Homo sapiens: one gene and its partners. The protein of the gene in region 5 purifies or fractionates together with the protein of the main gene of each other region. This does not show direct contact. Each region holds a gene or a part of one and is shown on either strand. Other genes may lie near its edges.

Region 1 (3,500 bases), on a different chromosome or scaffold from region 5:
CTTCCGCCTCCCATATTCAAGTGATCCTCCCGCCTCAGCCTCCCCAGTAGCACCACCACGTCCGGCTAATTTTTGTATTTTTAGTAGAGATGGGGTTTCACCATGTTGGCCAGGCTGGTCTCAAACTCCTGACCTCAAATGATCCACCCGCCTTAGCCTGCCAAATTGTTGGGATTACAGGCATAAGCCACTCTGCCTGACCAACCAATAGATCTTAAAGAGCTAGGGAATGAAGCTAACCAGCAAAGCCAGGGCTGGAGAGAAACGGGGTCCTGGAGACATTATCTGAACACCTAGATACAGCTGCACCTGAAGTCAGCCCTGCGCTGCATTGTTTGGGTTCTGTGAATCTTCAGTGTGTTCTGAACTGGCTTAGTGCAAAACCCAAAGAACCAGGCAGATGCCCCTGCGATGGCAGACCCCTCATGTACGTACCTGCCTGCTTGCAGGAGAAGGCAAAGACGATGATGTCGTCAAAGGACCAGGTGTAGTCAGGGTGAGGTGGGTAGAAGGCCAGGTTCCTGGACGCCGCCTTCCGCAGGTCGATCAGGAAGGTCGAGTGCACCATGGGAACTGCAAAGCAGCCCCGGCGGTCTCGCTTGCGGATAGGGATGTAGGCAGGTGTGCGCTTGTAGTAGCCCTGTGGGGAGAGAGCGAGAGTTCCGCGTAGGGGTCTTGAAAGGTGAGGATGGAGACCCGTGATAGTGGGCGGCATGAAACAGGACCAGACAGACAGCCAGGCACAGCAGTGTGCGCCTGTGGTCCCAGGACCCCAGACTCAAGCCCAGTGTGGGACCTGTGGCCAGGCATGGCCAATAAGAAAGAGCCTTGTATTTTCCCAGCTTCAGTAATGAGTTCAGAGGTAGTGTGGAGAGGAGACTAGCAATGGCCCAATCAGAATGGATGATGGCTAGACGCTGCTGGGATCACTCTCAAGCTGTCTGAGAATGAACCCACCCAAAGGATGGAGAAAGACAGTTATCCAAACACCTGGATCAAGCCATGCCTGAAGTCCCATCCTGACACCACCACTTGCTAGCTGTGTGACTTTAGGCAAGTCACTTCCTCTCTGTGTTTCTGTTTCCACCTCTGGAATAGCATGGTGGGGGACAATCAAGGACCCTCTATTCTTCCCTCCTGTCTGGCCTCAGAGGGCTGTTTAAAGATTACCATAATGAGTTTTTGTTTTGTTTTGTTTTTGAGACCAAGTCTCACTCCGTCACCCAGGCTGGAGTGCAGTGGCGTGATCTCGGCTCACTGCAACTTCCGCCTCCTGGGTTCAAGTGATTCTCATGCTTCAGCCTCCCGAGCAGCTGGGAGGACAGGCATGTGCCACCATACCCGGCTAATTTCTGTAATTTTTTTTTTTTTTAGTAGAGATGGGGTTTCACCATGTTGCCCAGGATGGTCTCAAACTCCTGAGCTCAGGCAACCCGCCTGCCGCAGTCTCCCAAAGTGCTGGGGTTACAGGTGTGAGCCACCGTGCCCAGCTTCCATGATGATTTTTGTAAAACACACACCACGAGGTTGTGTGACAGTAAGTTACACTCTAGCCACGGCACCCCCCTGCTCAGCCCAGTCCCCACAGTCCCCAGGCCCTCACTCTACCTGGGAAGTCATTCCACACCAGAAGTTGGAGTACGCAGCCCGGGAATCCAGCATGGGGGCGACCACCGTCTTGTTCTCAGCGATGAGCAGGCTCAGTGTGTCAGGGTTGAGGATCAGGTTGTCCGCATCTACAAACTGCAGAACACCCCACAAAGCATCAGCATGGGCTGCCAGGTCAGGCTACCATTCAGAACAGCTGGGGCAAAGGCCAGTGCCCTGGGGGTCTGGCAAAGACCTCTGGAAGCACCCCCTACACCGGATGAAATGAAGCAGGGACCCCGTTTTGGGGGCCTGCAGGATCCCCTGGATCATGGAAATAAAGCAAAGGTCTTCAGTTCCTTCAAAGAAAATTCTAGGCACTGAGATAGCCCTGAGAAATAAATGAACAACCAATGAGCAAGAAGGTAGCAAAACCTTTTTTTTTTTGAGACGGAGTCTCGCTCTGTCACCCAGGCTGGAGTGCAGTGGTATGGTCTCAGCTCGCTGCAACCTCCGCCTCCTGGGTTCAAGCGATTCTCCTGTCTCAGCCTCCCGAGTAGCTGCGACTACAGCCGTGCACCATCACACCCGGGTAACTTTTTGTATTTTTAATAGAGACAGGGTACCATCATGTTGGCCAGGCTGGTTTTAAACTCCTGACCTCATGTGATTCGTCCACCTCGGCCTCTCAAAGTGCTGGGATTACAGGCATGAGCCACCATGCCTGGCCTACTATTTTACTTTTTCTTCATTTTTTATTTTTTAAAGGGATAGCATCTTGCTGTGTCACTCAGGCTGAAGTGCAATGGTGTAATCGTAGCCCACTGCAGCCTGGAGTTTCTGGGCTCAAGTGATCCTCTCATCTCAGCCTCTCAAGTAGCTGAGCGTACAGGCACACGTCACCATGCCTAGATAATGTTTTCATTTTTATTTTTATGTTTGTAGAGATAGGATCCCTCTACATTGCCTAGGGTGGTTTTGAACTCCTGGGCTCAAAGCGATCCTCCCCATGGCCTACAATAGTTCTGAGATTACAGGTCTGAGCCACTGCACCTAGACTAAAATTAAATATATATATATAAAATCACACATAGAAAATGATTAGGTCCGGACGTTCCCCCTCTACCAGGATGTAAAGACACAGAAGTCATGATATATCACAGAACTACCAGAAGGTTTTTTGTTTTTGTTTTTGTTTTTTTGAGATGGCGTCTCCTGTTGCATAGGCTGGAGTGCAGCGGCGTGATCTCGGCTCACTGCAACCTCCACCTCCCATGTTCAAGCAATTCTCCCTGAGTCTCCCAAGTAGCTGGGATTACAGACACATGCCACCACGTCAGGCTAATTTTTGTATTTTTTGGTAGAGATGGGGTTTCACCAGGTTGGCCAGGCTGGTCTCGAACTCTTGATTTCAAGTGATACGCCTGCCTCGGCCTCCCAAAGTGCTGGGATTACAGGTGTGAGCCATTGTGCCCGGTCTGGATTTTTTTTCTTTTACTGCTGGTCCACAGAGATGCTTTCTGTTACCCAGGCAGTATCGTTTAGAATATTTGGATTAACTGCCATGAACAACAACAAAAACTAGAATTCCAGTATCCCCTGGCAACGTGAGAATACCATTTCCACATGGCAACCTTCAGTTGCAGAGGGGAGGTGGCTGGGTCTTAGGACAAGCCCTGTGGTCATGTTACACACCCCATCCGGTCCCTCTGGATGTTTGAATCTGTGACCTTTGAATATTAATGCAGAACAAACAGCCAGATCACTGTGGCAGTTCCTCAAAAAGCTAAACATAGAATTACTACATGATCCAGGAATTCCATTCCTAGGTATGAACCAAGAGAATTGAAAGAAAGGACTCAAACAGCTTCTTTGTTTGTTTGTTTGTTTTTGAGACAGAGTCTTGCTCAGTC
Region 2 (2,367 bases), on a different chromosome or scaffold from region 5:
GCAGTCCCAGCATGCGGCCCCCAGTCCTGTCCAGGTGCCTGCCATGGGGGGTGCTGAGTGGTCCTGGTGCAGGAATGGGTGGCCAGAAGAAGGGATAGAGCTAGGGGTCATTTCTGAGTGGCGAGGACTGGGGGCCAGCGAGTTGCTGGCCTGTGTGGCACTCAACCTTCCCCTCCCCAGCAGCATCAGGCGGGGCAGGCCCCACACTTGGGCAGTGGACAGCCACAGCAGAATCTGTACCACCCAGGGGCCCTGACAGGCACGCCGCCCTCTCTGCCACCGGGACCTTCTGCCCAGTCCCCTCAGAGCAGCTTCCCCCAGCCAGCCGCTGTGTATGCCATCCACCACCAGCAGCTGCCCCACGGCTTCACCAACATGGCCCATGTTACCCAGGTAAGAGCCCAGCTGTCCCACTTCTGGGTCTGTTTGCCAGGGCCCGTCTGCCATGGGGACCATCCCATTGCCAAGTCCCTGGTGCCACCCTTGCCATAGTGCTCCCTAACTCTGGCTCTCAGAGTCTGTTTCAGGATTCTGTGGTCTTCCCGGCTACTTTTTTGTTTTCCACAGGCCCATGTCCAAACTGGAATCACAGCAGCCCCGCCCCCTCACCCTGGGGCTCCCCACCCGCCCCAGGTGATGCTGCTGCACCCACCCCAGAGTCATGGGGGGCCCCCCCAAGGCGCGGTGCCCCAGAGTGGGGTGCCTGCACTCTCAGCTTCCACACCCTCACCCTACCCCTACATCGGACACCCCCAAGGTGAGCAGCCTGGCCAGGCGCCTGGATTTCCAGGAGGAGCCGATGACAGGATTCGTGAGTTCTCATTAGCTGGGGGAATTTGGCATGGAAGAGCTGAGGGGCTGCAGGTGGGGCAGGATGCACGGGTTCTGGGTGGGGAGTGAGGGGTCTTGGAGGCAGGGCTGTCCCACAGGGCGCCCGCCGACCTGCACCTGTCTGTGAAGTATGTAGGGTGGGCAGAAGCCACAGTCGCCGCCGCCAGGGGCTTGCTCCTGGCTCTGTCCTTTGCTTCCCTCCGTCCTCGCTCAGTTGTGATCCAGCAGCCCCCCTCCCCACTGCCTCCCCAGCTCTCAGTGACCCCGACTGTCTCCTGACTTAGCCGAGGTAAGGTCAGTGCAGCAGACAGGGCCAGACTGGGGTGTGGGGGGCTGAGCTGGGCACATGAGTGAGGGCTCTGGCTTACTGGGAAACAGCGATTGACCTGTGCTTCTGACAGCCCCCGAGACACCTTGAGGAGGCCGCTCCTTCCCAGACACACCCCCACGCCCCCACTGGACGGCATTGGAGGAAGGGACAGCTGCTTGGGTTCTAATGCTCCTGCTCTCTTCTCTTTCCCCTCCAACCAGTTCAATCTCATCCCTCCCAGCAGCTCCCCTTCCACCCCCCGGGGAACTGAAGATTGTCCTGGCCGCGACCTGAGACCTCCATGAGTGGAGGGAAGAGTGATCTATGTCTCTTCCCCCAGCAGCTCGGACCACTCCCAGCCCCCCATCCCCCCGTTCCCCAGGGGAGCTGGGGAATTCCTGCCAAGCACCTTGAATGGGAGGGGCCTCACAGAGGGCAGGGCCAGGGTCCAGCAGGGGTGGGGGGTTCCTGCTCTGCCCCTGCCCGTCCCCACCCAGTCTTGCCCTCCCATCCTCTCATCTATTCCCCCGCTGGAGACGGAAGATCTTTTATTTTCTATTATTTATAACTTCAGACTTGGGCCCCCTGTTCTTTCTTTCCCATTAACTTGAGTGACCTGTGTGAGAGACAGACAGATGCCCCACGAGGATGGCTGGACAAGGACTTTTACTTTTTATTACATAAAAATATTAAAAAATAAATAAAAAAAATAAAATTTTAAACTAACTTAACCTGCCTGGAGTTTCCTCCTTGGAGACTAGAGTGGGGTGACAGCTGTCAGTCTTTTGTGGCATTGATAGGTGCTGCATTGTGACCTGTTCCTTCACCTCCATGTAAAAATCGTGTCCAGTGGCCAGCCATGGTGGCTCACGCCTGTAATCCCAGCACTTTGGGAGGCTGAGGTGGGCAGATCACCAGGTCAAGAGATGGAGACCATCCTGGCCAACTTGGTGAAACCCCATCTGTACTAAAAATACAAAAATTAGCCAGATGTGGTGGGACATGCCTGTAATTCCAGCTACTTGGGAGGCTGAGGCAGGAGAATCACTTGAACTCGGGTGAAACCCTGTCTCTACTAAAAATACAAAAATTAGCCTGGCGTGGTGGGACATGCCTGTAATCCCAGCTACCTGGGAGGCTGAGGCAGGAGAATCACTTAAACCCAGGAAGCGGAGGTTGCAGTGAGCTGAGATCACTCCATTGCACACCAATGGTGGCCAGTTTTT
Region 3 (3,133 bases), on a different chromosome or scaffold from region 5:
ACCGAGCACGGCTCTCCCTCCCTCCTCAGCCTCTCAAGATGGTAGATGCACCCACCTGCAAACTTTTCTCTCCGACAGAAAGGCCTCTTCTTCAGGACTAACTGACCTACCGCAGGCTACTGCCCCTGGAACTTGCCAGCAAATTCACTCCCGGGATCCATGTCAAATCAGGGTTGCCAGAGGAAAGTCAGGGCATGTATTTTCATCTGCTGACTTGGGGCAGCCCTGGGTCAAATCCCCATCCCTCAACTCAGCACCTCTGTTGCAACAAAGCAGGCACAGCTGCGGTTGCAGGTAGTTCTCGAGATACAGCAGGCCATTCCTGCAGGACTAAAAGCAGCTGCGATGACTTATTGGCCAAGAGAGAAAATGACCATCCAGCCAAGTCCTTGTAGAAATGAAAATGGAACGTAATGAACCAGTCTCTCTTACACTGGCCTGTCTGCCCCACCCACACTTAGTTTCTTTCCCCACTCTCCCTATAATAAAAATACCATGGGTTTTAAGACCATTTCATCACATACTTTATTGGACATCTCCTGTGGCTGGTCACTGGGATAGAGTAACCAGGAAATGCAGTCGGCCCTCATGAATGAACAAAACTTACAACCCCAGGAGGGGAGCCAGAAACTCAATTAGTGGCTTAGTTTCCACAACACTACGTGCTACAAAGAGGTACAGAACAATTCCAGGCAAACTAAGAACCTGCCCCAGCCTGGAGGACAGGCATGGGGGTGAGGGAACCCACAGGCAAGAAGCCTCCCTTAAGCTGAGCTCAGGACTGGATGAAATGATCTTGGTGGGGCAGGAGGGAAAGTTCCAGGCAGGGAAAACAGCAGGGAGTGTGTGGTGGTTGGAGGTGCCTGCCTAAGGGAGGCAGGAGATGGTAGGTACAGAGTTAGTGTAAGAAAGCCCAAGAGAGGCTGGGGGACCAGATCCCACAGGCCCTGGGAGGCGAAAAAGTAAAAACAGCTTGTATTTAATGGGAATGTCCTATTACATGGAAATTCACTTGGAAACTGAAGCTCAGAGAAGTTACCATACCATGGTGGAAATGGGTGGGTATTTGTTCTCAAATCCAGTCAGCCTAGGGGAATGGGCAGTATTTGTCAGATCTCTCCCTCCCCCAGTACCAAGGAGGGTTGTGTAGAAGTGGTGTTCATCTATTAAACACGGGGGTAGCCCTTAAATGAACATTTTTAACCCATCATCAACAGCCCTGTAAAATGAAAACCACCCTTAGCGTGCTCTTGAAATACTGTACTTACCAGGGTGAGAAAAGGTGCTGACATACTTCAGCAAGATTTCTGGTTAGAGCTGAACTCTAAAGGATTTTTCTACTAAACAGAATATTCCACTCCACAGGCATATGGCTGGATGAAATTTTTCTATGTGAGGTTCATAATTACTACTAAGTCTAAAGTGTTAGAACAACTTGATCATAGCAACATTCCTACTGAAAGTTTTGAGGTTGGCCTACGTAGAAGGAAGCATTTATGCCTCACACCTTCCAAAGTGCCTCTGCTAAGAGCCACTCTTCCTTGAACACCCTCCCCTGTTCTGCCCTGGTGCAATCCCTGTACCCTTTGCAGCCCTGTGAAGCCCTCAGATGTCCCCTCCCTGCCCCTTTCTATTCCCTCCCTCAAGCAGAATGTCATTCTCCCTTACGATCATGGATGACGCTGTGAGAACCCTATCATGGCAGCCAATATAGTACAAGTCAGTACCGCTGATTTCTGCATTCATTCAGCAAGTATTTATGATGTCACCTGGCTCCCCGCCAGACACTGGGGAAACAAACGTGGAGACAGGGCACTGCCCGCACAGGGCACATTTTGGGGGACAGCTACCCTGTCTGGTGCACCATCCTCACCTGCACCTGGCAAGGTGGGTGAATGGGGAGGAATCCAGACAGGTGACCTGGGGGATGGCGGGCTATTCTCTGATTTGGGGAACACAGAGAGGACAGGGGGCAAAGTGGAAAGTAAATGAAGATGAACGAGTTATATCTACAAGTCTGAAGCTGGAGAAAGATGTCTGGGCTTCAAAGGAGATTTCGGAGGCAGCGGCTCACAAGGAAGCGATCCTGAAATCGTGGCTGAAGGTGCTGAGTGCTCAGTCTCTCCAAGGATGATGATGCTTTACAGAGTACTGGTGTCACTTCCTGTACTGGGTGGCATCGGGCTGCCAGATAGAGTCAGAAAGAAAACAGGCGGGAGCAGAGCCAGTAAACTTCCGAAGCTTTCAATGACAGGAAAGCTGGAGATTAGGAGCCAGTTTGAGGTCGTGATGGCCCACAGCCTGGGACCCTGAGATTCCGCGGGTGGAGAATGTCTCAGGTGAGAGCAACCCTAGTTAGAAAAGTATTCCCAAGAGACCAAGGCAAGCCACGAGTCACTCCTTACAGAAAGTCACTCTTGGTCCCTAAAGATGTGCTCACGAGTCATTCTCCAAAGCACAAAACTTTATTTTCAGAAAGGAAAGGACATCAAAAATAGGACTGTCCTGTGCAGATGTCCAATAGCCTTAATTTGGGGACCAAATGCCCCCGGCCATTGGAAAGACAGATCTTGTAAGCTCCATTCATCCGTGCGCTCATCCATTCATTCGTGTTTACCGAGTGCCTGCTCAGTGTTGGGACAGACGAGGATAGTTGTTCCTGCCACCGTGCCCTGGAGGACATAGGCAAACAAACGACGACACAGTGTGGCAAGTGTCACAGTTAAGGCTGCTGTAGGGTGGCTGTGGGTGGTGACAGACCTCAAGGCTTCATTCTGCAAAGCTGAGGGCAAACCTTGGCCCAGACTCCTTCACAAAGCCCCCGGTGTTCAACTATTCTCAGTCCAGGAGCCCAGCAGTGCTCCCAGTGGAGTTTATGAAGCCGATTCAGACCCAGCAAATCCAAAGTTTTCTTCCCTTAAGCAGACTGACAGCCTTACTTACAGAATTCACTTGTAATTTATGACAAAAACTGCACTAGAACTTATCACAAAACTAACTTTATTATATTTTTCCCAGTTCGATTTTTCTGTCAAATATCTTCACTGTCCCTATGACTTCTGGTTCTTATTTTCTTGACACACACATTGTCCTCAGCCTGTGTGGGAAGAAAAAAAATAGAACTCTTAAGTAA
Region 4 (3,500 bases), about 88 Mb from region 5:
AGCCCCTCCCTGCCGGCTCGCTCCCTTTTTCCTGTTAAACTGGGCAAGCCTCAACACATTGAGGTGACTCACCACACAACCTCACGGGGGCTGGAATCGGGTCATATACTCACAGGCTAATAAAGCCAGCCACCAATACAGCAACTTCTGAGGACCTTGACTCTAGCAGTCTTCAGAATTCTTACCCTAAAAGGTCTATTAACCTCAAACCTCCAAGTATTATAAACAACACTATTATGACCCTAAAAGTCACTGTATCTGAACAAAATAAATCTACTCAAATTATCTAAATGCAACTGAGATATATCCAGTCAAGTAGAAATATAAACAATAGAAACCACAGCTAGATACCACTATCTCCAACTCCTACGGTCACTCCAATACACACACAAACCTAAACAGAAGGAAACAAAAACACAGAAAATCAGATGTATTCTGGATTTCTGCACTGCAAGAGAATGGGCTGGCATTAGTACCTGCTGCTCTATCTTCCTTATTGTTATACTCTGAGAACGCATATTTCAGACAATTCACTGAAAACTAAATAAACAAAAAGAACACTAAGGATAGTATTCCTTCTCTTAACCTATTTTATAAAGGAAGTCTAGGACATATTAATAACAGAATAAATAACATCCTAGGCTAATAAAGCAAAGAAAAACTGAGGCACCTATAGCAGAGAAGCTCCATATCTTACCCATTTCCTCTATTTCCTGCAAATCTAAGGGAATTTGCAGCTTTTGACCTGGACACGTCCTAACATGCCTCATTTAACAAGAGTGAGGGCTACCCTGGGAACTGGAAGTTTTCTCATCTTACTATCTGCTTCTCTGCGCTATTTACTTCAATTGAGAGCTGCTCTGACAGAGGAGCTTTAACCAATACCTACCCAGGCAGAAGCCAGATTGGCTCCAGGCAAACACTAAGGAGGAACCACATCAGGAGAACAGGATGCTAAAAGGGAAACAGACTTTTCTTTTTTTTGCTAAGGACTCAAAGGCTTTAAAAATTAGAAAGTGGTCTAACCAAATATCACTTTATACAACTGCAAAAATAAAACTATTTGAAAACAGTTAATATGATGGGGTAGAAGAACTTATTTGCCAATCTTAAAATGTGGAACTGAACTCCTGTTGCAAAATAAATCACAGAAAGAGTTTAGATTAAAATAATAATCCATAGGACTTACTTTTGGGAAAGGGCTGACAGAAGATTACACACCCTCTCCTCACATAGCAAATGTAGTATTTATAATCCCTCTTACCTGATGTACAAATACATCTTCTTTGGTGTCATTTCTGTTGAAAGACAAAAAGCTCACAATTAAAGGTAGTACGTATGTGGAAAAACTTAAAAGAACCTATGTGTTATGAATTTAACTCCCAAGTCCTCAAAACACAACATATATTTTCACTTATTTTCTACACTCAATTCAGACACCTAAAATCCTTGTTAAACATTTCTAACTCCACAGGCCACCCACCTTCCTCCTCCACATTGCCACAGTGCTTAGATCCAAGCTCACAGACTCAACATACAGAAACATCCCGTTCCTCTGTCTCTTTCTGAATCACATGGTGTGTAATCAGAGCCTCAGATTTTCCTCCCAGCAAAAGCAAAGCAAGACAGTTAAAAGGACAGGGCACAGCTGTGAACTAGGCTCTCCTTACACTGAAACTTAAAACAGCCCCCCACCCCCACCCCACCAAAGGAGACAAGAAATTGGAGGACTTTAAGAAGGGGTGGGAAAGCAAAGAAAATGCCGATATCATGTGAAAACCTCATAATACTCCCAGCATCTTGTAGTTATGTTCTCATTCCTGTACGGTTAAAAGTTACCACAGTTTACAGTTTCTACATAGGACTGGACCAGAAGTGAGTTAAAGATCCAGCTCAATGACTCACTAGTTGGGTGACCTTAGGAAAGCTGCTTAACCAGTGTAAGACTCCGTTTCTCCATCTGTGAAATTATGGATATGGTCTCATTTATCCTAAGGCCCTTCCCATTTCTGATTTTATCTCCCCCTCCTTTTCTTCCTTAATGACTAGATTTTATGAAATAAGTTATTTATTAGTGTCCTGGAAATGTATTTTAAGTAATATTTAACAACCAGTAGCTTAGAAATGAGAATATTTACAGTGCTTAGAAACCTAAAAAATTTATATAAGCCATTAATGAAGGCTAAGGGATTTATAACTCCTGGTGCCACAATGTAAGTATAAACTTAAAACATGCAAATATACACACACACATACCGATTTATAAATCCATATCCATTTCTGACGTTGAACCATTTGACAGTGCCAAGGACTTTGGTGGCTAAAATAGGATTAAGCAGATAAATTAGTATCTGACCTACAGAGAGATATAGCTCATATCACTAAGATCTTGATAACATTAGACAAAGCCTAAACATACCTAAAGAAACCATTAAAAGCTTAATTCCAAAATACTTTAGAAAAAGAAAATGGAGCAAGCCAAGATCTCATAAGGAAATACTTTTCAGAAGACTAAACCTTTCTTCCTTATTCAACTTTTCAGGAAACTCGCAAGATAAGGAGTGGTTATAAGTCTATACAATTCTGTAATCATTAAAATTGAGAAACACTGAAGGAAAAAAAGAATGTTCAAGATGAATGTTCCAAGTTTTAACCTAGACAAATTTTATAAGTTCAAAATAGGAGCTACAATAAAAGAGTGAAAGACCTTAACACATCACTTTCATACTTGGAAATATTAGGCAAACTTTAATGAGAAACAAGGTGGCTCCTTGTTAACAGGCAATCTACAAAGACGTAAAGCAACTTGTCCAGTCGCCAAGTGGGAGCTCATCAGAGGAGTCAAGAATAATTATAGAACTGCTGCTGTCTCAATCCAGTTCTGTACTTACCACTCTGAGACGTGATATAACAGGTCTTTTCAAATCACATGATGAATTTGGGCTTGTTTCTTTGTTTACCTTGCTCTCTACAGTTTTGCGAATCAAACTTAAGCATTTTTCCATAAAATCCCCCTCTTTACCATAATGGTTGTCTCTACCTCATGAGCAGGACCACTTCTCTACAATGCCTGATTTTAGCAGAATTGAGAGAAGGAATCTAAACAAAATAAAACTTCATGTAACTTGTATTTTGTAGGTTTATATTTATCTCAACTATTTCAAATATGATCTTTGGAATCAATTATGAATGACAAATTCAGTACTTCTAGGAAATGCCCCTGTCTCAATTCAGGAAGTGCAAAAAGCAATTATAAAGACTCAATGAAACAGGAAACCTGATAATAGATTACCTTAAAGAAAAAATAAAGAAAAAAGCCTCAGTAGAGAATGAAAGTAATTATTAACATCAATCCATACTGTCTTTTCATAAGATACAAAGTTTATAATTTCCAAGGATAAACAATAAGGCTTCACTTTTAAATTCAAAACTAAAATAGTAATTAAGACTTGCTCTGTTGTAGGCAGGGGTAGTTCTGAAGTTTGCTAGACTGATACACT
Region 5 (3,500 bases):
TTTGTATTTTTAGTAGAGACGGGGTTTCAGCATGTTGGCCAGGCTGGTCTTGAACTCCTGACCCCAAATGTTATGCCCGCCTGAGCCTCCCAAAGTCCTAGGATTACGGGCGTGAGCCATGGAACCTGGCCTGAAATACTTCAAATAAAGCAAGATATGAGAAATTCTTTTTAAAAAGCTGCTAATGGCTAATCATTCTATAATCAGAAGCCAAAAAACCTTCACCAAAAAAATAGCTGCTCATAAGAACAATTATGTCAACTTACGAGAAATCTTAAATAGACGGCTGTGGAGAGTTACAGTGAGAGTACTTTTAGCAGGCTTTAATTCACATACATTGCACTGACCTAGAACTGTCAGGCTCATATCTGGAAGCAACCCACACCATAATATCCAAATAGTTGCCTAGGGTCTAAGAGTTCTAAGACTTATTTCTTTCAAGAAAAGATTTAATCAAACAAACTTAATCCTATGTTACTGACTTACTCAAATTTTCCAAAAAGTGCAGTCAGGTAGTACAGAAAAACTAAATAATGCTTAAAATAAAAATAAAACATGGAAAAACAATCAATCAGGTTCAAATTATTTGTACATAATCCCCACTACCACGAGAATGTTCAAATTTACTATCAATAAAACATCCAGGAAATTCCAACTTTTCAAACCCGCCTGAGAGGTTTTCAAGAAATCTCTTTGGGCCAGGTGCAGTGGCTCATGCCTGTAATCCCAGCACTTTGGGAGACCAAGGTGGGTGGATCACTTGAAGTCAGGAGTTCGAGACCAGCATGGCCAACACGGTGAAACCCCGTCTCTTTTAAAAATGCAAAAATTAGCCGGGTGTGGTGGCACATGCCTGTAATCCCAGCTACCTGGGAAGCTGAGGCAGGAGAATTGCTTGAATCTGGGAGGCGGAGGTTGCAGTGAGTCGACATCATGCCACTGCCCTCCAGCCTGGGCGATAGAGCAAGACTCTGTCTCAAAAAAAATCTTAACTCTTTTTTTTTTTTCTTTTTCAAGGTGGAGTCTCTTAACTCTCTCGCCCAGGCTGGAGTGCAGTAGCGCCATCTTGCCTTGCTGCAACCTTCTGCCTCCCAGGTTCAAGCAACTCTCCTGCCTCAGCCTCCTGAGTATCTGGGACTACAGGTGCATGCCACCACGCCCAGCTAATTTTTGTACTTTCAGTAGAGACAGGGTTTCACCATTTTGGCCAGGCTAGTCTCAAACTCCTGAGCTCGTGATTTGCCCACCTCAGCCTTCCAAAGTGCTGGGATTACAGGCGTGAGCCACAGCACCCAGCCCAAAATCTTAACTCTTGTTACCTCTATTTGGAAAGGTCTTACCCATTTCTGATTCTTCACCTTGGGCCAGATAATCTGTTTGTAATTGTGTAGCCCAGGTGATCTGGATGCAGCATTGAGGCAAGCAACAGAAAGCAGACGCACTATCATCCTCATATTCTTATTCCAAGCATCTAAACATTTCTAAAAAGACTGATACAGGAATAGCCCCCTGATAAATGTTTTGTCAAATCTGGGGAAGGAAAAAGTAATTTATTTTTGAAAATCCATTTCTTATTAGAAATAACAGGCCTATCAAATCTAAGTAAAAACCAATTCTCGGCAGTGGCTCATGTCTGTAATTCTAGCACTTTGGGAGGCCGAGGAGGGAGGATCTCCCGTTGAGGTCAGGAGTTTGAGACCAGCCTGGCCAACACGGTGAAACCCCATCTCTACTAAAAATACAAAAATTAGCCAGGTGTGATGGCACACGCCTATAGTCCTAGCTACTCGGCAGGCTGAGGCTGGAGAATCACTTGAATTGGGGAGGCGGAGATTGCAGCGAGCCAAGATTGCGCCACTGCACTCCAGCCTGGGTGATAAGGCCAGACTTCGCCTAAAGAAAAAAAAGAAAGAAAGAAAATCAATTATATTTCCTTCAAACATAATGAAAAACATCAGCTGAACAAAGATATCTTAAATAAGTGACCAACAAATCTACATAAGGTAAGTCAGATAAATTAAAACCAAAAACGTGATTTTTTTTTTTTTGAGATGGAGTCTCACTCTGTTGCCCAGGCTAGAGTGCAGTGGCATGCCCTCCATCTCCCAGGTTCAAGAGATTCTCCTGCCTCAGCCTCCCAAGCAGCTGAAATTACAAGCGCGCAACACCATACCCGACTAACTAATTTTTGTATTTTTAGAAGAGACAGGATTTCACCATGTTGGCCAGGCTGGTCTCGAATTCCTGACCTCAGGTGATCCACCTGCCTCGGCCTCCCAAAGTGCTGGGATTACAGGTGTGAGCCACTGCACACAGTCAAACATGTGGTTTTTAATCTGTCAGGAAAAAAGTTCCAGAAAAGTGATGTCATTTTATAAATCTCAGATTTAATAAGGATAAAAAATTAGGAGACAGTGTGCTGTACATGATTAGCAGTTTCAGTCAGGAAAAAGGAAGCATCAGTTGCATTAAATTCTGCCTCCAGAAAGCTTTGTTCCTTTAAGTAGATCACTTAAGAGTTTCACTCAAAAATAGTACCTACTATGCTACCCGATGATCTCTAACGTATTTTTCAACTTCAAAACCCAACAGCTCTATGATATCACCGATGAGCTTCTCTAATTCCTTTAATCTCTACCTCTAGTATAAAGATGTTGAACCATAACAATATATTCTAGTGGGCACTTATTATGTATTACGTACTGAGTTGTGTTCCAAGTGTCTTTGCATTAACTTACAGAGTCCTAAAAATCTATGGAATAAAATGCTAATATCCCCATCTGACAACTCAGAAAACTGAGGTTCAAGCATGCTCTTCACTAACTCAGGAAATCTGCATGCTATGATATACATGTCACTTTCACTTATCTACCTTATTCGTTTCCCAAAATTATATTTTAGTAACATTGCACTATATTGCCCTGACATTAAAGACAAAAATTCAGAAATCATTTAATGGCTATTAATTACTAAGCACTAGACACTTCACATATGCAATGGCATGTACTCCTCAATCTGATTAAGTAGCTATTAGGTTATTCCTCTATTTCAGGTGAAAATAGAGGATCTTAGATTAAGACACTGTTCAGTGTCATATGAATAAGTGGCAGACCTGGAATTTGAATCTATAACTCTATTATTCACAAGTCTGTAAACTTAACACCTTATTATACAGTGGTGGTAAATTTGTGATTTAATTAACATTTCCTATTGGTAGCATGCTTTTATGTTCTTTTCCAGGTCTTCAAATATTTCCTATTGAGAATTCATAATTTGGCCAGGAGCAGCAGCTCACACCTACAATCCCAACGCTTTGGGAGGCCTAAGCAGGAGGATCCCTTGAGGCCAGGAATTCAAGACCAGCCTGGTCAACATAGTGAGACTATCTCTATAAAAATTTTAAAAATCAGCTAGGCATGGTGGCACACACCTGTAGTCCCAGCTATTCCAGAGGCTTGAGCCCAGGAGTTTGAGGCTGCAGTGAGCTATGATCATACCAC
Region 6 (3,500 bases), on a different chromosome or scaffold from region 5:
ATCCAGGAGTTTGAGACCAACCTGGGCAAAACAGCAAAACCCCGTCTCTACAAAAAATACAAAAATTAGCCAGGCATAGCGGCACATGCCTATAGTCCCAGCTACTTGGGAGGCTGAGGCAGAAGGACTGCTTGAGCCCAGGAGGCGGAGGTTGCAGTGAGCTGAGATTGCACCCATGCGCTCCAGCCTGGGCAACACAGCCACATTTTTTGTCTCAATAAATAAACAAACAAACAAACTCAAAGAAGCAGAGACCAAAAGATATCTATATATCGCTGCCCATGCTCCTATAGTACCCTGTGCATATCGCTATAGTAGGAGACAGCATGGAGTTCAGAGGCTGGTGGATTGTGTCTGCCTCACCTTTAGCCTACAGATGAACTCTTGTTGGACAGAGTGGTTAGTTTCACTTCACGTGCCCAGTGACAAGGACATCAGAGATGCTCATCGACAATTTGTTAGATAAATGAAAGAAACAGAGTTGGAAGATTCTATTCCAAACTGTGTATATGGTTCACAAAAACCTAATTAAATATGTAGGACAGTAAATTTTCTAACTAGTCAAATAGGATGGGTTCTTCTGGCCTCCTAGGAGCAGAATAAGGGGAGAGGAAGACAGATGCCAAAGTGCTCTGAGAAAAACTGGCTACATAATTTGTGGAGTACAGTGCAAAATGCAAATGCGAGGCCCCTTGTTCAAAATTATTAAGAATTTCCAGATAGCACTACAGTACAGCATTAAACCAAGCATGGGATCCCGGGCAACTATACAGCTCACATGCCCAGGAAGGCAGCCATGGCCTTGAGCTCTCCGGAGGAAAGGCCTATTCAGGATGCTCATGCCACACCTCCTGCTGAGCCTTTCCGAAGGAAGTCCTGGATGATCTGGGTCTTCGTGTTGTAGCTAGGATTATCGGCCACCATGGCGCATAACTTTCGAAACTCCCGTAGCAGACAGTCCTTATGCCTGGGGTCACATTTGCTTGAAGACAGACTTCTCTTAGGGGTGGGGCTCGAGGGGGCTTCCCCAGAGTTGTTGGGCTTGGCTGTTGGAGAAACAACAGAGATGAATTCATTCTGCCTTTCTGAGAAGAAAGAAAGGGAAGGAAGGAAACTAACAGATATTCTGCTGGTATTTAGCTTTATTTAATCTCCCCGAATAGACTTTTGGGGTAGATGTCATTATATCCATCTTACAGATAAAGAAATGGAGGCCAAGTAATTTTCCCAAATCTTACAGCTAATAAATAATGTTAAAGGAACAATGGCCTCCTTAGACCCAAGCAAAAGACCAGACTGATGTGCATCTCTTTATGTGAGCACTTTACTGAAGAATAAAGACCAAAGTCATGCCAAGAATGATCAGGACTGGCTGGGCACAGTGGCTCACGCCTGTAACCCTAACACTATGCGAGGCCAACGCGGGAGGACTGCTTGAGCCCAGGAGTTCGAGACCAGCCTGGGCAACATAGTAAGATCCTGCCTCAAAAAAAAAAAGTGGTCAGAAGGATCTCAGAGCAATTGTAAAGCTGATCCCAGAAAAGCTGGCATGAGAAAGGGGTAAGAAATCAAGTACGTGTTAGACAATGTGAAATTACTGCTATCACAGGTTGTCAGAGCTGGAAGAAGCCTTAAAGATTATCTAGTTCAATGTTCTCTTACTGATAAGGGGACTGAGGTCTGAGAAGAGCAAATGACTTCCTGGCCCACTTCCTTGTTGAAAGAGCCAGGACAAAGACACTACTAAGAAAGTCAGATTCCATTAGTACACTCAACATCCCTACCCCTCGCTGCTTCAACTTTTCTTTTCTTATTGTCAAAATAAAACCCTGCTCCCCAAGGAGCAGTTATAAAAAAAAAATAATACATTTTTACAAAAGGTGGTCAAGGGGCAGGGATTTCCTCCAGACACTTAAAAATAATTATGTGCAACTCATCGGTGATTCCCTTTCACCTCCTTGTGACCATTTAAAAAGCAAATTTTATTCGGCAAACTTGTGGCAGAGCCATTACTAAGCTAACTGCTGTTGTACACTGTTTCTTGTCTGGGCTTTGTAAATTATAAATCCATCCTCATCTCTGATCCGGAATCTAAATATGATTTTAGGGGACAAAATCTCCAAAGTGTCAATGTTCAACCAGGTTGCAAGAACTAAAACACTCTCTTTCTCTCAACTCCTCCCAAATTCCATCCCCAACACCGGAGCCCTTCCAGAAACATGCTGTCCTTATCATCACCTGGACTCTTCTCTATCTTTGGCCTACCAGCAAACAACAAACCAACCAACCTCAGAATTTTTTTTTTTTTTTTTTTTTTTTTTGAGACAGAGTCTCGCTGTCGCCCAGGCTGGAGTGCAGTGGCGCGATCTTGGCTCACTGCAGGCTCTGCCCCCAGGGTTCATGCCATTCTCCTGCCTCAGCCTCCTGAGTAGCTGGGACTACAGGTGCCTGCCACCACGCCCGGCTAATTTTTTTATTTTTAGTAGAGACAGGGTTTCACTGTGTTAGCCAGGATGGTCTCGATCTCCTGACCTCGTGATCCGCCCGCCTCGGCCTCCCAAAGTGCTGGGATTACAAGTGTGAGCCACCGCGCCCGGCCCAGAATTTTTAAATAATAAAAATCCTATAGAGCCAGGCACCGTTTTTGCAATGTTATCTCTTACAGTCCTCATGAGAACACTATGGGGTAGATGAGGCATGGAGATATGATGAAGCTTAAACAAATAAATACACAAACTCACTGAAGCAGAGGGGAAAGTAATCTATATATTGCTGCCTGTGCTCCTATAGCACCCTGTGCATAGCACTATGGTAGGAGAGGCCACTGCTGCTTCATAGACAGAGGCTAAAGAGAGGTAAGGACGTGCTCAGGGATCTGAGCTGTCAAGGACCAGAACCCAAGTCTTCTGACCTCAGGTCTAGGCTTCTTTCAATCACATAAAATGTCTTTCAATCTCCAAATGACTTCTAAAATAAGGCCAAGTGGTTTGGCTTTATTTATTTTCTTCAGCTGAGTCAATCACAAGAATGTCTCCAAACAATAAAAGCAGCAACACAGTGTAGTATAAAAGAGCACAAGTACTGAAGTCAGACTTCAGTACAAATACTAACTCCATGATAACCCTGAACGTCAACTTTCTCAGTCATAAAAAGGGCCTAATAAAAAGTACTTCCTAAATAAAAGTACTGTCTAGGGTTAACTGAAGAAGAAATGAAACTACATATATAAAAGCCCCTAGTCCAATGCTGTCTGTTTACGTAAGGCCAATAAATGATCCTGATCTTCTCAACTCCTATCTATACCACATGCCCCAGCAAAGTCTTCCTGAATCCCTGTCTATGAAATAGTAATTCTATATTTTATATAAAAGAAACTATATATGTGTGTATACACGTGTGTGCATGTGTGTATTTTAGTGAAGAGAACAGGAAACTTAACACTTTATTGTTCATCTGTCCTACAAATAATAGCCACAGTCCTCCCCTTTAGGAGATGGGAT
Region 7 (3,500 bases), on a different chromosome or scaffold from region 5:
AATGCCCTTTTGTGCCTCTGTTGTAACTATGAAGGGCCTCTGCCCTGGAGGGCGCCAGAAGGACCACACATGGAACTGACCTGAGCTCAACCTGTAGCAAAGAGTCACCAACCCAGTTAAAACCAGATTGAGGCAGAGCCACCAACCGAGAAAGCTCACATCTGCCAACCTCCAGAAGCATGAGCAACAATAAATGACTGCTGTTGAAGGCCACTGAATTTTTTTTTGAATGTTTGTTACGCAGCCTTATTATGACAATAGCTGACTGATACAGGTGGCACTCCCCGAGAGAATCCATAAGTCATTTAAAGACAGCCTTTCCTTCTAAGTTCATAAAGAAATCAGTTACTTACCAGGCTCACCTTTTTTCTTTGAACCAGACTTCTTCTTGGCAGGAGCCTCTTGCTTTGGTGCCTCTGGGCTCTGGGCCACATCTGTATTTCTGCCCTGGACAGAAGCTGACTCTGTCTTTTTACCCTGATTGGCAGCTGCGTCTGCCTTTTTGCCTTGGTTGGGGGACCCTTCTGCCTTTTTGCCTTCACTGGGGGACCCTTCTGCTTTTTTCCCCTGGTTTGTAATACCCTCTACCTTTGTGCCCTGATTAGCAACCGAATCTGCCTTTTTGCCCTGGATGGGAGCTCCCTCTCCTTTTTTGCCTTGGTTGGGACTCCTTTCTGCCTTTTTGCCCTGAGCCCCTTCTGTCTTTTTACCCTGATTCTGGGCTCCCTCTCCTTTTTGGCCCTGGTTCTGGGCTCCCTCGGCCTTTTTGCCCTGGTTCTGAGCCCCCTCGGCCTTCTTGCCCTGGTTCTGGGCCCCCTCAGCCTTCTTGCCCTGGTTCTGGGCCCCTTCTACTTTTTTGCCCTGGTTCTGAGCACCCTCGGCCTTCTTGCCCTGGTTCTGGGCCCCCTCGGCCTTCTTGCCCTGGTTCTGGGCCCCCTCGGCCTTCTTGCCCTGGTTCTGGGCCCCCTCGGCCTTCTTGCCCTGGTTCTGGGCCCCCTCGGCCTTTTTGCCCTGATTCTGGGCCCCCTCGGCCTTTTTGCCCTGGTTCTGGGCACCCTCAGCCTTCTTGCCCTGGTTCTGGGCCCCTTCTACTTTTTTGCCCTGGTTCTGAGCCCCCTCGGCCTTTTTGCCCTGGTTCTGAGCCCCCTCAGCCTTCTTGCCCTGATTCTGGGCCCCCTCGGCCTTCTTGCCCTGATTCTGGGCCCCCTCGGCCTTCTTGCCCTGATTCTGGGCCCCCTCGGCCTTCTTGCCCTGATTCTGGGCCCCCTCGGCCTTCTTGCCCTGGTTCTGGGCCCCCTCTCCCTTTTTGCCCTGATTCTGGGCCCCCTCTGCCTTTTTGCCCTGGTTCTGGGCCCCTTCTACCTTTTTGGCCTGGTTCTGAGCCCCCTCGGCCTTTCTGCCCTGGGTTGGGGCCCCCTCCACCTTTTTCCCCTGGTTTGGGGTTGTATCTACCTTTTTACCCTGGTTCTGGGCCCCCTCCGCCTTTTTGCCTTGGTTTGGGGTTCCTTCTGCCTTTTTGCCTTGGTTTGGGGTTCCCTCTGCCTTTTTCCCTTGGTTTGGGGTTCCCTCTGTCTTTTTGCCCTGGTTTGGGGTTCCCTCTGCCTTTCTGCCCTGGTTTGGGGCTCCTTCAGCCTTTTTGCTTTGATTCTGAGTCCCCTCCGCCTTTTTGCCCTGAGTAGTGCCAGTGGCTGGTGTGTTGCCCTTGGCACCCACTGGGGGCACCACCACCATCGGCACCTCCTTGGGAGCAGTTTCCAAGATGGCAGCCTTCGAAGTGAGAACCTGGATGGAATTCACTACAGAGCTGACAGCTGGTTCCACTTTTGCCACTTTTTTCTCCTTCTTCTTTTTGTCCTTGGGGGAGGAGGCCAGCTTCTCCTGGGGCATGGCTGGAACTGTGGCGACAGGAGCAACGATAATGGGGGGCTGCACTGGGGTTGGAGCCACAGCCACAGCAGGAGCCCGCACTGGTTCTCGAAGGAGGACAGTCACATTGGGGGCTGGATCATGATCAGGTATCTTCCCATTAGGTTTCTCTTCCTTTTTCTTGGTCTTTCCTTTCTTCTCCACTGTTTTCTCCTTCTTTTTCTTCTCGACTTTCTGGTGGTGAGTTTTCGCCATCTCCTTGCGCTGGTTGGCTAGGGCTTCTTCATATGACGTTTCCTTCATGGAGAAAGTCGACACCAGGAAGATGCCAATGGCAGAAACAACCATGAATCCTCCAAAGACCACAACCCCCAAGGTTTGAGTGTCGTAAATATCCATCCTGGCTTGCTTTCCTTTCACCTGTCAAACATACATGGAGGTTACTATTTATAGAAATCAAGGCCTTCAACAGTTTCTATCCCCACCCTACCACCAAACTTCAGGTTTCACTAATTCTTTCTTCAGGCTAATAAATTCAGAGAAGAAACAAACCCAGGCACTCTCTGATGTCCCACATTCTCACCTGCTCCTCTTTAGGAGTGAGCGATTCGTACCCAAGGCATGAGCAGTCCCCATACAAAGCAACAGCAGAGTCAGAGCAGAGTGGAGGCCTATCTCTGGAGCACACACGCCCAGGAGCCTCAGCAGCCATGACCCTGATGCAAGATATTCCCCACCCAAGGTCAAAGATGCACAGGAGCACAAACACAGGCCAGGTGTGAGACCATGGGGAGTGGTGGAGACTGTAGTAAAAACACCCGCCCCCACCTAAAATTAGACAGTGACACTCTGTCATGGCCGATTGCCCTAGAAATGTGATTGCTGAGTTGGAAGATGTTTTGATTTTTCATGTTAGGCCAGACACTTTTAAAAAATTTTTCTCTCAACGTGAAATTGACTGATTTAAAAAATATGTGAACCGAACCAAACCAAACACATCTGCAGGCTTTCAGCCACAAGCATTTTAGCCAGCAGGCCCACAGTGTGCCATCTCCACTCTGTTGTTTCCCTCTTCCCCAGTGCCAATAAATGCTGCTACCCAGGATCAGAGATAAAAACTTCTGCATTACAATCCTGAAACGTGTTCAAAAATTCAGTGAGGGAAAATAGCCTTTTGCCAGCAATAGCTCCTGAGGAGTTATGGAGCCTGCAATTTGCATGTTGGGAAACAGGAAGAATCAGTCTTGGGAGGCCCAGAAGATGCCAGGTTTGGAATTTCACATCCAGAAGCTGCACAGAGGGTGAGGAGACAGTGTCAGCAGGCCCCTCTGTCAGACAACACTCCCCAAACCATAAGAATGAACAACACCATTCTCACTGCCTATGGACCAAAGTCCAATGGGTCAGAGGCATCCAGGTTCATACACCTTCCTGCCACAGCCCGGGCTAAGTTCGACTTCACTGAGGAACTCCAGGAGGTGTATTTATTTGGATACATTCAAGCCAGTCCCGAGTCTCTCTAAAGAAGATCGATGGAATGAGCAAAGAGAACACAAGGGTAAGAAGGGGTGGTTAAGGGGAGGTAAAAGGAGGTGGAAGAGGAGAGGAGGGGAAGTGGACAGGCCTCCCCCAGC

The links.
Region 1: the proteins of TMPO (region 5) and COLGALT1 purify together in Homo sapiens (affinity purification with mass spectrometry, with the first as the bait; one large-scale study listed by BioGRID). This does not show direct contact.
Region 2: the proteins of TMPO (region 5) and ATXN2L purify together in Homo sapiens (affinity purification with mass spectrometry, with the first as the bait; one large-scale study listed by BioGRID). This does not show direct contact.
Region 3: the proteins of TMPO (region 5) and MKI67 fractionate together in Homo sapiens (co-fractionation; one large-scale study listed by BioGRID). This does not show direct contact.
Region 4: the proteins of TMPO (region 5) and YBX3 purify together in Homo sapiens (affinity purification with mass spectrometry, with the first as the bait; one large-scale study listed by BioGRID). This does not show direct contact.
Region 6: the proteins of TMPO (region 5) and LIG3 purify together in Homo sapiens (affinity purification with mass spectrometry; one large-scale study listed by BioGRID and IntAct). This does not show direct contact.
Region 7: the proteins of TMPO (region 5) and RRBP1 purify together in Homo sapiens (affinity purification with mass spectrometry; 2 studies listed by BioGRID and IntAct, with this or other methods). This does not show direct contact.

What each region holds. Positions count from the first base shown.
Region 1 is NC_000019.10:17,565,649-17,569,148, reverse strand, and holds part of COLGALT1 (procollagen galactosyltransferase 1 precursor), read right to left. Parts: intron 1,744-3,500; coding exon 1,609-1,743; intron 641-1,608; coding exon 436-640; intron 1-435. UniProt on the Homo sapiens protein: Beta-galactosyltransferase that transfers beta-galactose to hydroxylysine residues of type I collagen. By acting on collagen glycosylation, facilitates the formation of collagen triple helix. Also involved in the biosynthesis of collagen type IV.
Region 2 is NC_000016.10:28,835,366-28,837,732, forward strand, and holds the end of ATXN2L (ataxin-2-like protein), read left to right. Parts: coding exon 1-34; intron 35-180; coding exon of another isoform or gene 181-183; coding exon 184-393; intron 394-567; coding exon 568-900; 3' UTR 901-960; coding exon of another isoform or gene 961-1,115; 3' UTR 1,116-1,362; coding exon of another isoform or gene 1,363-1,435; 3' UTR 1,436-1,867; downstream 1,868-2,367. UniProt on the Homo sapiens protein: Involved in the regulation of stress granule and P-body formation.
Region 3 is NC_000010.11:128,096,159-128,099,291, forward strand, and holds the end of MKI67 (proliferation marker protein Ki-67), read right to left. Parts: intron 3,098-3,133; coding exon 3,032-3,097; 3' UTR 501-3,031; downstream 1-500. UniProt on the Homo sapiens protein: Protein that associates with the surface of mitotic chromosomes and acts both as a chromosome repellent during early mitosis and chromosome attractant during late mitosis.
Region 4 is NC_000012.12:10,716,824-10,720,323, forward strand, and holds part of YBX3 (Y-box-binding protein 3), read right to left. Parts: intron 2,321-3,500; coding exon 2,257-2,320; intron 1,299-2,256; coding exon 1,265-1,298; intron 1-1,264. UniProt on the Homo sapiens protein: Binds to the GM-CSF promoter. Seems to act as a repressor. Also binds to full-length mRNA and to short RNA sequences containing the consensus site 5'-UCCAUCA-3'. May have a role in translation repression.
Region 5 is NC_000012.12:98,522,090-98,525,589, reverse strand, and holds part of TMPO (thymopoietin), read right to left. Parts: intron 1-3,500. UniProt on the Homo sapiens protein: May help direct the assembly of the nuclear lamina and thereby help maintain the structural organization of the nuclear envelope. Possible receptor for attachment of lamin filaments to the inner nuclear membrane.
Region 6 is NC_000017.11:34,987,012-34,990,511, reverse strand, and holds part of LIG3 (DNA ligase 3 isoform alpha precursor), read right to left. Parts: intron 1,047-3,500; coding exon 849-1,046; intron 1-848. UniProt on the Homo sapiens protein: Isoform 3 functions as a heterodimer with DNA-repair protein XRCC1 in the nucleus and can correct defective DNA strand-break repair and sister chromatid exchange following treatment with ionizing radiation and alkylating agents.
Region 7 is NC_000020.11:17,658,243-17,661,742, forward strand, and holds part of RRBP1 (ribosome-binding protein 1), read right to left. Parts: intron 2,287-3,500; 5' UTR 2,266-2,286; coding exon 354-2,265; intron 1-353. UniProt on the Homo sapiens protein: Acts as a ribosome receptor and mediates interaction between the ribosome and the endoplasmic reticulum membrane.